Regions from separate parts of the Homo sapiens genome. Here region 2 is linked to region 1. Evidence: fine-mapped expression QTL. A gene starts in region 1. The other region holds a variant in brackets. All regions are shown on one strand. Distances are from middle to middle. Region 1 holds the start of ZNF264 (zinc finger protein 264). Region 2 has its middle 4.5 kb from the start of AURKC.

The links. PIP is the estimated chance that this variant, and not a neighbour inherited with it, causes the effect.
Region 2: its variant is the best candidate, but not a certain one, in a credible set for the expression of ZNF264 in whole blood (TOPMed, PIP 0.50).

The regions. Positions count from the first base shown.
Region 1 is chr19:57,190,075-57,192,871 of GRCh38, forward strand. ZNF264 (zinc finger protein 264) reads left to right here and starts at 1,426. Exons shown (of 4, transcript NM_003417.5): 1 at 1,426-1,872. The coding sequence starts at 1,840. RefSeq lists enhancers at 1,262-1,321, 1,342-1,431, 1,442-1,501 and a silencer at 1,672-1,941.
Region 2 is chr19:57,225,110-57,227,906 of GRCh38, forward strand. No RefSeq gene overlaps it. Among named protein-coding and RNA genes, the nearest start is that of AURKC, 4.5 kb to the right of the region's middle. The variant A/G (reference allele first, on the strand shown) is at 1,253.

The DNA of each region.
Region 1 (2,797 bases):
CATGATTGAGGAATTGATAAATAGAAACAGGGAACTGAAACCAGCTCCAGTGTCCCATAGAACTGATATTTATGGTTTCTTTTGAATCAACACATTATAGACATTGAGCCTCCCCTTCCTAAAACTCGAGACACTTTTATTTGTCTTATCTGATTTCCTTTCTCAGGAAACCAAGCATCAGGCCTCCCAGATAGTATAAAGAAACTGAAACTTACTGGATTACCACATCTGGAAAAACGAGATGCTATACCCCTTACCCATGATGATTGCCTAACTGACCATCTGCTGCCTGTTGACCCATTCCTCTTCCTTACCCCTTCCTAATTCCTGTTTTCTCAAACATAGTTACACTTCTTCCCTGATGTATAAACCCCTAGTTTTAGTCAGTTGAGGAAAGAGATTTGAGATTGATCTCCCATTTTCCTCAGCTGCAGCACCGAATAAAGCCTTCATCCCTGACAATACTCATTGTCTTGCTGACTGGCCTTCTGTGCAGCAAGCAGCAGGATCTAGATGCAAGGACCTGGCCTTTCTGGTAATATTGTCATCAACCATTTAATGATGTAGACTTGGTCCCCGGCTCATGCTCTGTGTATTTTCTTCTCCATCTACATGCATTGCCTTGATGGTCTCACTCAATATCATGACTTGAAATAACAGTGTAAGGTAACTCCTAAATTCATATATTCATGCTCAAACCTTCTTCCAACATTCAGTCGTAAGTCGAATTGCCTGTGACAGAGATACTTTGTGGTTCTGTAGACATTTCAAACTAACCATCCTGAGCCTCCGAACCTCCTCCACTTGCAGCCTCCCCACCTCAGAAGTGGGCAAATCCACTTTTTGTGTGGTCTGGGCCAAATACATGACTCCCTGCATCACGTAGAGGCTGTGCTGGTCCAAAGAAGGCTCAAAAGAGGGCAGTTTGCGCACACAACGTGTCGGGGCAGGGCTTCCAGATGATCATTCGGCTTTTTTGTGTCTTCCAAGATGATGATCCGGGGAGGAGGGATGTGAAAGGGGGTCAGTCGCCAGGCGAGCTGAGGACCCAGTTCTGCGCCTTTGCCTGTGCCCTGACCTGAAGGAAAGTCCCTGTCTCCCGAGCTCCGATTTTCCCGAGAGAAGAATGCAATGTAACCCTTGCCCCTCGGTTCCCTCCCTCCATCCTTCCCCTCGAGTTGTGCCCACCGTAAAGAGGTGGGTCTGGAGCGTCTCCTCGGGTCCTGGAGTGCCTTTCCCTGGGAGGAAAACTTGCGCCGTGAAGCGTTCCTCCCGTTGTTGAACACATGAGGAAAACTACACTACTTAGAAGGCTGTGCATTATGCGTACGGCGGGAGCTGGGCCAACGACGGCCTAGGACGGGGACGTTTCCGACGGCTCACGCCGGTGGGGGCGGGACTTCCGGGTTGCTCGCTGCGGACGCCATTTTCTTCTGCACTTCTGTCTGGAGAGGTCTGTAGCCACTGAGGGCCCCGGTCGGGGCCGCTTTGCAGGTCCCTAGTCAGGACCGAGCAGGGGAGTAGGATAGGAATCCCCGCCGCACCTTTGTACGAGCCTGACCCCTTCCGTGGGTTTGTTCCTGGGTCGCCGTCAAGCTGCGGTCTCTCCTCCCCCGCCCTTCAGCCCCGCGGTCTCCAGGGGCGGCGCCCTGGGTCTGGAACGCGGTTGCCACCGAGGAGGCGGCGGCCCTGCGTCTGGAACGCCGTTGCCACCGAGGAGGCGGCGGCCCCGAGCGCGCCTGGAAGCCCCGGGCAACCGGCCAGGGTCGGGCACAGGTGGGGTCCGTCAGGCCGCCCGGGGCTCCTCTGTCCCAGCTCTGCGGCCCAGGGGGTGACGTGATGGCGGCAGCGGTGCTGACGGACCGGGCCCAGGTGAGTGGACGGTGGCTTCGCGGTTGCCGCTTCCTTGCCAGCGCTGAGGCGGTTTCCGAAGTGGGTGGGAGCCCAGGTATCCCCTGGATTTGTCTTCGCAGTCGTCGTTCGCTTTGGTGTGTGGAGCTGGTTTGCCACTTAATTTATACCTGGCCGTAAGGAGTGTTGGGCCTACTGGAAGGAGCTCCGTAGGTTGTTGAGTGAATGATGCTTCCTCTGGGGACTCCCATCATCCTTGGCCTGCAAGCATTCTCTGGTGGACCAGGTCTCATTCCAGCATGAATTGGGGGCCTGAGGGGGGAAGGGGAGGGCAGGGCAGTAGCAAGCCGACAAATGCGCGAGCAGAGACAAGGTATGTTGTATGTTTAAGGAGGCTCAGGAGGGTGTGTAAGGTTGCCATGGTTTTCCTGCGGCCGCTGAGACGTGGAGGGCAACAGTGTGTGGTCTTTTCCTGGATGTTCTAGCCATCCGCAACTACTGCAGACATTGTGGCCAGTCAGATGCCCTTACTCTCATCGCTACAGCCTGCATTATCCTTGGCCGCTCGTGTTCCGTGGCCCCAAAGTATCCTGGCGTCAGAGACAAGTTCTGTCGGAACCCAGTAAGGAAAGAGGCCGATGGTTGGTTCATTGTGGAATTTCCTTGGGGGATCTGGGAGACCCAGGGAGATCCCAGAGGGCATGGGAAGCTGGTCTGGAGCCTGTCGTTCCCCAAGTAGATGCAGCCCTTCCAGTGCCGCTCTGTGGGGTCAGTGAGGAATGCTGAGCTTTTTGTGCCCGTGTTCACATACTTTTTTTTGTTTTGAGACAGGGTCTCACTCTGTCGCCCAGGCTGGAGTACAGTGGTGCACTCTCAGCTCACTGCAGTCTCTGCCTCCCAGGTTCAAGCAATTCTCCTGCCCCAGCCTGCCGAGTAGTTGGGATTA
Region 2 (2,797 bases), 35 kb after region 1:
TTCATCTCAGTTTCTTGACTTTTGGCATACATGTCATTTCAGCCACCTACAAGCCTATTTTCCATCTGCATGTTCTTTTGCTGTGTGTGTGTGTGTGTGTGTGTGTGTGTTTGACATAGGATCTTAGGCTGGGCGCGGTGGCTCACACCTGTAATCCCAGCACTTTGGGAGGTCGAGGCAGGTGGATCACTTGAGATTAGGAGTTTGAGACCAGCCTTGCCAACATGGAGAAACCCCGTCTCTACTAAAAATACAAAAAATTAGCTGAGTGTGGTGGTGCATGCCTGTAATCCCAGCTACTCGGGAGGCTGAGGCAGGAGAAATGCTTGAACCCGGGAGGTAGAGGCTGCGGTGAACCAAGATTGCGCCATTGCACTCCAGCCTGGGCAACAAGAGTGAAACTCCATCTCAAAAAACAAAAAACAAAAAAAAAATAGGGTCTTCTGATCATGGCTCACTGCAGGCTCAGCCTCCCAAGTATCTGAGACTACAGGTGCACATCACTATGCCCAGCTAATTTTTAAATTTTTTGTAGAGATGGGGGTCTCCCTGTGTTGCCCAGGCTGGTTTCAAACTCCTGGGCTCAAGCAGTCCTCCTCCCCTGGCCCCCAAAGTGCTGGGGTTACAGGCATGAGCCACCGTGCCTGGTCTTCATCTGCATGTTCTTTTGTCATTTTCAAACCCTTTCTGAATTATCCTCACACTTCTTGAGTATCAGACATCACCAGTCTGATCTTCCATATGTCCCTATGTCTGTATGGGCTTCTCCAGCTTTGAGTTCTTTGTCTTTTCCTCACTCTCTTCCTCTAATGGAGGAGCCTCTTGGGGCTCATGTCACGCTCCCATTACCTCTTCCTTGTGTTATTTCTCTCCACGTCCCGCAACTCCCCTCTCCTTGTAAACTCCCCGGCTACAGCACCACGCTTTTTACCACTCTGGTGAAGGTCAGCAGTGGCTCCCTGTTTATGAATCCTAAGTCCTTGTCTTTTCTGGGCTATGGACAGGACTTGAAACTGTTGTTGTCCAGTCCTTTCTCCAGATGTACTCTTGGATTCTGTAAGGTTATGCTTCTGGTTTTCTCCCCTGCACCCTCTCACTCCTTTTCCCCTTTCATGTTGGTGCATCCACGTGTATCCAGCCATTTGGTGTTGAATTTTTTTTCTTTTTTTTTTCTCTTTGAGACAGAGTCTTGCTCTGTCTCCGGGCTGAAGTGCAATGGCATGATCTCGGCTCACTGCATCCTCCGCCTCCC[A/G]GGTTCAAGTGATTCTCCCGCCTCTGCCCCCTGAGTAGCTGGCATTACAGGCATCTGCCATTATGCCCGGCTAATTTTTGTATTTTTGTAGAGACGGGGTTTCACCATGTTGGCCAGGCTGGTCTTTAACTCCTGACCTCAGGTGATCCGCCTGCCTTGGCCTCCTAAAGGGCTGGGCTTACAGGCATGAGCCACCGTGCCTGACCGGTGTTGAAATTTCTAAGGCTTTGTCCCAGGCCTCTTTTTTCTCTTACTGGTCTCTCCCCAGGCCTCATCTGCACTCTTGGGTTCAGCTACCTACTTTAGTGAACATACCCTAAAACGTATTTCCCCAACCCTCATCTCATACAAGTCTTACTGCTCTCCTTTCACTCCATGCTTCCCTTTCCTTTTCCCACTCGAGATGGAGCTTCCACCACCTGCTTTGCCCAGTTAGCAAATGTGTATCCTTCATTTTGTCCCAGAGAGCACACCTTCACAGAAGCCCACTAGAGCACCCAGCTAGCTCATACCCATTCTTTCATGATTATCTATTGATTTGTTTGGTTATTGAATAATGACCGTATCCTGAACTCAATTTCCAGCTTCGAAAAAGCACAGACCTTGATCTAGATTTTCTCCTAATGTTCCATGTGCATAGTTTGTAGTCAATAGTATGTATTCAGATATTTGTTAGGTGAATGAGCCTTAATCATTTTTGACATTTTAGGTTATGTGACATTCTCTCCCCAGTACCACCTCAGGCTCGATGATTTGCCTGAAAGTCAAAATTCAGAAAAGAAAGTCACACACAACTCAGAAAAGCTGTTGTACTCATGGTTACAGTTTATTACCACAAAAGGATAGAGACCAAGATCACCAAAGGTAAAAGGCACATAGGAGGAAATCTGTGAGAAACCAGGCACAATTTTTTTTCTTTTTTCTTTTTCTTTTTTTTTTTTTTTTTTTTTGAGATGGAGTCTCGCTGTGTCACCCAGGCTGGAGTGCAATGGCACAATCTCGGCTCACTGCAACCTCTGCCTCCCAGGTTCAGGTGATCCTCTGCCTCAGCCTCCCAAGTAGCTGGGATTACAGGCATGTGCCACCACACTGGCTGATTTTTGTGTTTTTAGCAGAGATGGGGTTACACCATGTTGGCCAGGCCAGTCTGGAACTCCTGACTTCAAGTGATCCACCCGCCTTGGCCTCCCAAAGTGCTGGGATTACGGGTGGAAGCCACTGTGTCCAGCACAGGCACAAACTTAGCAGGTGTTCCCTCCCAGTGCAGTTGCACAAGGGCACACTGAATTCTCCCAGCAAAGTTGTGTGCAACACATTCACAGTATTGCCAGCCAGGGAAGCTCCCCCAAGCCTTGACGTCTAGAGTTTTCGTTAAGGGTCATTGAGGTAGGAATGCAGAACCCACATGAATAACCATAAATATCCAGTCTACAACCCTTGCAGAAAACAAACATATAGCATGGCCCAGGGCCTCATGCATGCAAAAGCCAGCATCCACCATGAATCATATTGTTAGCATAAATTATCTGGTCAAACGTGCAGCAG